2 linked regions of the Homo sapiens genome follow. The protein of the gene in region 2 interacts with the protein of the main gene of each other region in a biochemical or structural test. Each region holds a gene or a part of one and is shown on either strand. Other genes may lie near its edges. The genes, in order: MFHAS1 and CCDC43.

Region 1 (3,820 bases), on a different chromosome or scaffold from region 2:
GACTGAGGTGGGTGGATCATCTGAGGTCAGGAGTTCAAGACCAGCCTGGCCAACCTGGCGAAACCCCCGCCTCTACTAAAAATACAAAAATTAGCCAGGTGTGGTGGCGCATGCCTCTAATTCCAGCTACTTGGGAGGCTGAGGCAGGAGAATCGCTTGAATCCAGGAGGCAGAGGTTGCAGTGAGTCAAGATCACTCCACTGCACTCCAGCCTGGGCAACAGAGCAAGACTCCATCTCAAAAACAAACAAACAAACAAAAAAACATGAAAAGGCAAAGGCTGCCAATAGATTCAAAGGGTTTCTGCTGAATTAATATATATTTTAATAATCTAGGGATTCAATGAATCTATTTTTAATGTATGCTCTACTTAAACACTCAACATAATTCTGTTCCCACATTTAGCTTTTATTTCTAACTCATTATTTTAACTTTTACCAAATCTTTCGTAACTGTAACAATTACTAACAAATGATGGCTATCACAGAAAAATACAGAAGAGGAAAATGTTTTTTGCATCTTCTTAATGTAACGAGAAATGTACTATAATCATGTTTTCTACTATTCTATACCCTCTGCTACTTTTGAAAAACAACACAATTCAAAAAAAAACAAAAAGACTATAAGACAAAAATATGTACGTTGGTGTATATATACATATATATTTTATATGTACATATTTTATAATTATATGTATATGTATATATTTTATAATCGTGCTCTAAAAACAACTGATGATTTATTCCTATTCAATCTATAAGATAATTTTACAATTTTTCAATCATTTGTTTTCCACATTGAAAAAAAATCTCTTCCTTATAGCCTGGATTGCAAAACCAGGTGTGCCTCATTTGAAAGGCAAATAGACAACACAAGACAAGGGGCTTGTTTCTGCATCTCAGTACAAGCTTGTCTGTGGAATTTATGACTGGTAAAAATTAAACATAAAGAGCTGACGTTAGCAAAAAAAACAAAAAAAAAAAAAAAAAAACCTCCAGCCTCGCCCCTAACTCCTCAAAGTTCTTAGAAGATCTTTACTTGCTCAATAACCTATGTCTCTCCTTTTGTTGTTAATAACATTCGTTTTTATTACTTTGGATTAAGAATGGCTTCAGGTTGCTCCTTCAGTAAACTACCCTGTAAATGCGTAACTCCCAGTCACTTTATTCCATTTGGTATCACAATAAAGAAGTATCTTGCTTCCATGAATAACACACAATGACAAATATAAAACAAACTGAAGAGTCTACCAAGTCATGGAGTGTGACAAGATTCCAGATAAACATACAGAATGGATGTCTCAGTTGACTGGTAACTGAATACGCTGGCTTTTTTCATGCTTAAGAATTAAATTCAACCTAGATCCAGGGCAACGGAAAGATGTCACCTTCGGAAATATTGGTATTCAATTCCTTCCTGATACTATTACCAGCTGCATTCTTGTTGTCCCTCTCTGACCAGGACAAAGATCAGAGTGGGACGCAGTCTTCCATTTCATCACCCCTCCGGGTCCCCTGGGGGTGGGGACCCAGGTGAGAAACGTGCAAGGATGCTATTGTTCTGTCTGGTTTGTGCTTAGGACACTTGGAATGTTGTTAACCACCTGCTCCACAAAAAAACAAAAAACAAAACACACACACACACACACACACAAAAACAGTTGTTTAAAGAACTACAAAGGATGAGGAAATGGACACGTTCCCAACTAAAAACTAGTTTGATACCAATTAACCAGGCTCAAAAGAAAAAAATCCCATATAAGTAAAACGCAAAACTTATGGAGACAGTAAAAAGATCTGTGGTTGCCGGGGTTGGGGGGAATGAATTGGCAGAGCACAGAGGATTTTTAAAGCAGTAGAACTACTCTGTATGATACTATAATGGGGGATACAGGTCATTGGACATTTGTCCAAACCCACAGAATGCCCAACACAGAGTAAACCCTGTGTAAACTATGACCTTTGGCTGGTACTGATGTGTCACTGCAGGTTTATCAACTGAAACAAATGTACTGCTCTGGTGGGAGATGTTGACGTTGGTGAAGCTACGCATGTGGGGAAGGGGATATATGGGAAATCTCTGTACCTTCTGTTCAGTTTTGCTATAAACTTAAAACTGCTCTAAGAAAAAAAAAAAAGTCTTCAAAAAAAAAAAAAACAAAAAACCCCAGACAACTAGTCCTGGAATTCTTCCACTTGCTTATGATGGTTTAAAAAAAGAAAACGAAAAAAAAGTCTACTGGAAAACACTCTCCAGAAAACTCTTAGCTTTCTGTCCCTTCCGTCTCAATTATTAAGCACTGCCAGAAAGCTTCATTTGCTTAACACTTACCAAAAAACAAACCTTAAGACGTCTATAAAACTCGAAACTGCCAGGAAATTCCCGAGGAAACGCCCCTCAAAGATTTCAGTCATCTATCTTCCATGTCCCTGAGTGGGCGGAGGGGAGCAGCAGCCCCAGGATTTAGTCATGCATTACAGTCTGAAATTTCTGTCTTTACTCATCCATTGTTCACTCCAATTACAAAAGATTTTCTCTGGAATTTCTTAAGAAAAGTGAGCAGTAATTTTTACTTTCTAATTACATTCTGAATGTAAGCAGAGTGCTTAAATGCTTGAGGGGATGGATACCGCATTTTACAATCTGATTTCTATGCATTGCATGCCTGTATCAAAACATCTCATGCACCCCACAAATATACAAACCTATGTACTCACGAAAATTTAAGTTTTTTAAAAAATTGTGACACTGGACACTTGAAACTCAAACTCATCTACCCCTTTGAGACGTGTCTAATGAACACTTTAGCCAACGATCAGTAAGAGGCTAACATCGGACACTGTCCAGAATCTATCTGTTCAACCACCTGAAATTTCCTTCCACCAAATGTGGGCTACATCGACAAGAGGGGAAAGGAGATGGCAAATGTTGTGACTGGAACCCATTTTGGAAGTCTGAGTCTGTTAGGAGAGGATGACACTTGTGACTGCATTTCATAAGGCTCAGGTACTTACTACCTTTTGCTCATCTCCAAATCTCCCTGTGTTTCCCTTACGAAGCTTTCCTGGAGAACCCGTGAAGTTAAACAAACATTCTGCCAAATGACAACCAAGTATCTCCAAAAACATATCTTACAGCATACCACAGAAGAACTTCTCCCTCTCTCCACTTACCTGGAAAAGCATGTGGATTGGGCGATCCTCTCTTAAGGCACTTAGAACAGAGAATGTGCACGGTGTAGTGCAGTCCAGGCCATTCCTGAAGTAGGACATTCAGTTCCTCCACCAAGGGGGTTATGGCTTGCCATGCGGTCCATATATTTGGTAATGATGCATGGCTAGCAATGGACAGGGTGTCTGGCTGCAGGACTCCCCTGGCAGGTCTGTAACTCACAACCACAGGAACTTTCCCTCTATAGGCAAAGATCTGAAATTTACCATCCGACCTGTGCACCACATGGCTGTTGATCTGGACACTGTAGCGTGCAAACAACCCAAGTGGAAAAGTAAAAGGAAAGCTATATTCAATCTGCAACTGCTCAGCCACAAAAGACTGCCCAGCTAGGTTGGTCCCATTAATCCAGGCTTCTGCATGGGGCACCTCGTTCTGCACATAGCATGGGAACTTGTACCAAGCTGTGGACCCATTCAAAGGCTTGCCCTTGGGTTTATTGAGGCAGTAACAGAGTCCCATCTTCTCCAGCAGCTCCAGCAACAGCTGCAAGTCCTGCTGGGCCTGGACATGAGGCTTAAGCAGCAACCGAATGACATGAGCTGGCAAGAGCCCATGCAACAGAAAGCCCTCCACATACTGATGGAGC
Region 2 (3,820 bases):
TAGGCTGGGCGCAGTGGCTCATGCCTGTAATCCCAGCACTTGGGAGACTGAGGCAGGTAGATCATGAGGTCAGGAGATCGAGACCATCCTGGCTAACAGGTGAAACCCCGTCTCTACTAAAAATACAAAAAATTAGCCGGGCATGGTGGCACACACACCTGTAGTCCCAGCTACTCGGGAGGCTAAGGCAGGAGAATCACTTTAACCCAGGAGGCGGAGGCTGCAGTGAGCCGAGATCGCACCACTGCACTCCAGCCTGGGCAACAGAGCGAGACTCTGTCCCAAAAAAAAGAAAAAAAAAAGTGTTTGGTGTTTGTATTCTCTGACAAATTATAAGGTTTTTGAGGAAAAAGAGAAAATTTCAACATTATTTTATTATTTTTTGAGACACAGTCTCACTCTCATATCCCAGGCCAGAGTGCAGTGGCAAGATCTCGGCTCACTGCAGCCTTGACTTCCTGGGCTCAGGTGATTCTCCCACCTCAGCCTCCTGAGTATCTGGGACTATGACTATAGGCACATGCCACTACACCTGGCTAGTGTTTTGTATTTTTTTTAGTAGAGACAGGGTTTTGCCATGTTGCCCAGGCTGGTCTCAAACTCCTGGGCTCAAACGATCCACCTGTCTCGGCTTCCCAAAGTGCCAGGACTACAGGTGTAAGCCATCACGCCTGACCTCAATATTATTTTAATTTTCTCCCTAATGCTGGGCAACTCAGAGTATAGATTTTTATTTTTCCCTTAGAAATCCTTCCTCCAAACTAATCCCTTTACAGTACTTGTTAACTTGTTTTCTCTGGGGAAAGTTCTTGCTAAACTGACTATCTAGGGCTGTCCTAGGAATAGGGCTCCCAATGTTAGCATGACATGAGTTCCTGAAGGTAAAGGGGAGCCGCCAGCAATGACAGCAAAATAAAAACTGATCTCAAGAGGACTCTATGGAGAAACACATAGGGAGGGACCCAGAAGGATACGTTTGTCAGAACCAATGTTCATTGTGGTAGCACCTGAATCATCCTTCTCATCTGCTTCAGTAAGTGATGTTAAGGAAAGTCAGATGGAAAACAACATCCCAACCTAACATTAGAAAACATTCAATAGACTGGTAAGTAGGAAAAGCACACTGAATGGAGGGAGCACATTATCAGGGATATGGCGATAAACCCAGGAGATTCATCTTTGGAAACCTCAACTTAGGAAAGATTGATATATCTTCTATAAGATCCTTTTCTTGGAGGCTGAAAAGAAACTTAAGTTGGTCTGGGTGGATTGCCACATTACCTGGAAGCCAGATGACCTTTAAACAGTGGTTCTCAAAGTGTGGTTCACAAAACCCCCAGGAATATATTAGAAATACACATTCTTGGGACCTATGCCAAACCTACTAAATTGTGGGTGAAGCCCAGCAATCTGTGTTTTAACAAGTCCTCCAGGAGAACCACTGCTTTAAAAGTCCTTTTCTAGCCCAAGATGAGAAATTATGTCACCGGAACCATAGCTCTGCCAACCCTGGCAAGAAAACTCGTAAAAAAAAAATTAGAAGAGAGGCCAGGCGCGGTGGCTCACGCTTGTAATCCCAGCACTTTGGGAGGGTGAGGCAGGCAGATCATGAGGTCAGGAGATCGAGACCAGCCTGGCTAACATGGTGAAACACTGTCTCTACTAAAAATACGAAAAATTAGCTGGGCGTGGTGGCACGTGCCTATAGTCCCAGCTACTCGGGAGGCTGAGGCAGGAGAATGGCTTGAACCCGGGAGGCAGAGGTTGCAGTGAGCCGAGATTGTACCACTGCACTCCAGCCTAAGCGACGAAGCGAGACTCTGTCCAGAATTATTCTGGTATTGCTTTGGAGGTTCAGCCTTACTTTTAACTACCTGGTCACATAAGAAAGAAAAGATGCAAGCTGCTCTAAATTTAGAGAATCTTTCACCCAAAAATACCCAGGTTCTAGTCCTGGTTTTGCCACTAATCTTCTGAATGCCTCTGATCACCCATTCATCTGTTGGTGTCTCAGTTTCCTTATTGACTGGGAAAGAACATAAAGATGGATTATACTTTATACTACACTGTATAGAAAAGTATTATACAAATATAAAGAATTACAGCTATATTGTATTTTCTGAAAGCATAATATAAATGGACTATTAAGACATTATTTGTTTTACACCAAAGTTTTCAGGAATATAATGATTATGTGTTGAAAAATATAAGTCCAGTATCAACTAATCCAATATCACTCCGCATATCCACAAAGGGCCATAGATTACTGCCATTTTAGAGGGGAAAATTAAGCTATAGAGGGGGATTAGCAACTTGCCAAAGGTCACTGTAAACCCACAAATATGTCTGGCTTGAGCTTTAGGGAATGGTGCCGAGACTCCAGAAAGGATATTCCTCTTCATCTGTCACATCAGCATACTGGGCCAGGAGGGCAGCTTTTCTCTGCTTCTCCTCTTCTGACACCATCCTTGGCTTTACTACGATTTGTGCCTGCTTCTCAATTAGGGTGGCAATGGCCTGTACTTCATCTGGGAGGTGGTGGAAGGAAGAACAAGGTTGTATGAGAGAGAACAAGCTCACTGAACCACTAGTCCACATAGGCAGCACTTGTACTGAAGACATTGGCATCTGCTGCCTCCTTAGAGCCTGGCAGTTCAAAGGACATGGCTCGGGGGCCATTGAGAAAGGAAAGGAAAGGCCATGCAGGCCAAGCTTTGTATCCATCTTCAATCAGAGCAGCCCTGATTTTACTTGTTTTATATACTGAAGTTCTGCTGCCTTAAAAAAAAAAAAAAAAAAAAAAGGTTGAAAAGCACTGCATTAGAACCACAGAAAACTAAGCCTCTGAACACTCAACTTCCCCATGGCATCCCAAAAACCTAAGCAGGAATCTAAAATCAACTTAAGCTGGTCCTGTTTATGTTTCTGATTATGCCAGGTGGAATTCTTAGATTAAGAATATTTTGGCCGGGCGCGGTGGCTCACGCCTGTAATCCCAACACTTTGGGAGGCCAAGGCAGGTGGATCATGAGGTCAGGAGATCGAGACCATCCCGGCTAACACAGTGAAACCCCGTCTCTACTAAAAATACAAAAATTAGCCAGGCGTGGTGACGGGCGCCTGTAGTCCCAGCTACTCGGGAGGCTGAGGCAGGAGAATGGCGTGAACCCGGGGAGGCGGAGCTTGCAGTGAGCCGAGATCACGCCACTGCACTCCAGCCTGGGCGACAGAGCAAAACTCCGTCTCAAAAAAAAAAATATTTTGCCATGCTATAAAATAAAATCAACTAGTAAGTTCTCCAGTCTCAAGAAAAGGAAACAATGGTGTAAAATAGTAGTTCTCACACTTGGTTGCACATTAGAATCACCTACAGGAGCTTTTAAAAAATACAAATGCCTGGGCCCCAACCCAGGTACATTAAGTGATTCTAATATACAGCCAAAACTGAGAACCAACAGTGTACAGAGTTCAGAATCTTTCCAAATTTGGCTTTTATGATTTGAGTTTTCTGTACCTAATTTACCATCCTAGTGGTGGGTATATTCGCCCATTTCTCTTCCATTTTAAAGGGTAAAGTGTTTAGCTGAATAAAGCCAAATACCAACCATAATTTGTGTTATGAAATGACAACATGAGGCAGGGTGCTGTAGCTCATGCCTGTAATCCCAGCACTTTGGGAGGCTGAGGTGGGCAGATCACATGAGGTCAGGAGTTCGAGACCAGCCTGGTCAACATGGTGAAATCCCCATCTCTACTAAAAACACAAAAATTAGCCAGGCATGGTGACATGAGCCTGTAGTCCCAGCTATTCACGAGGCTG

Evidence for each region.
Region 1: the proteins of CCDC43 (region 2) and MFHAS1 form a complex in vitro, tested with the Homo sapiens proteins (one large-scale study listed by BioGRID and IntAct).

The regions. Positions count from the first base shown.
Region 1 is NC_000008.11:8,886,888-8,890,707, forward strand, and holds part of MFHAS1 (malignant fibrous histiocytoma-amplified sequence 1), read right to left. Parts: coding exon 3,174-3,820; intron 1-3,173. UniProt on the Homo sapiens protein: Probable GTP-binding protein. Functions in innate immunity and more specifically the inflammatory response as a regulator of the Toll-like receptor TLR2 and TLR4 signaling pathways.
Region 2 is NC_000017.11:44,679,611-44,683,430, forward strand, and holds part of CCDC43 (coiled-coil domain-containing protein 43), read right to left. Parts: intron 2,529-3,820; coding exon 2,393-2,528; intron 1,034-2,392; coding exon 975-1,033; intron 1-974.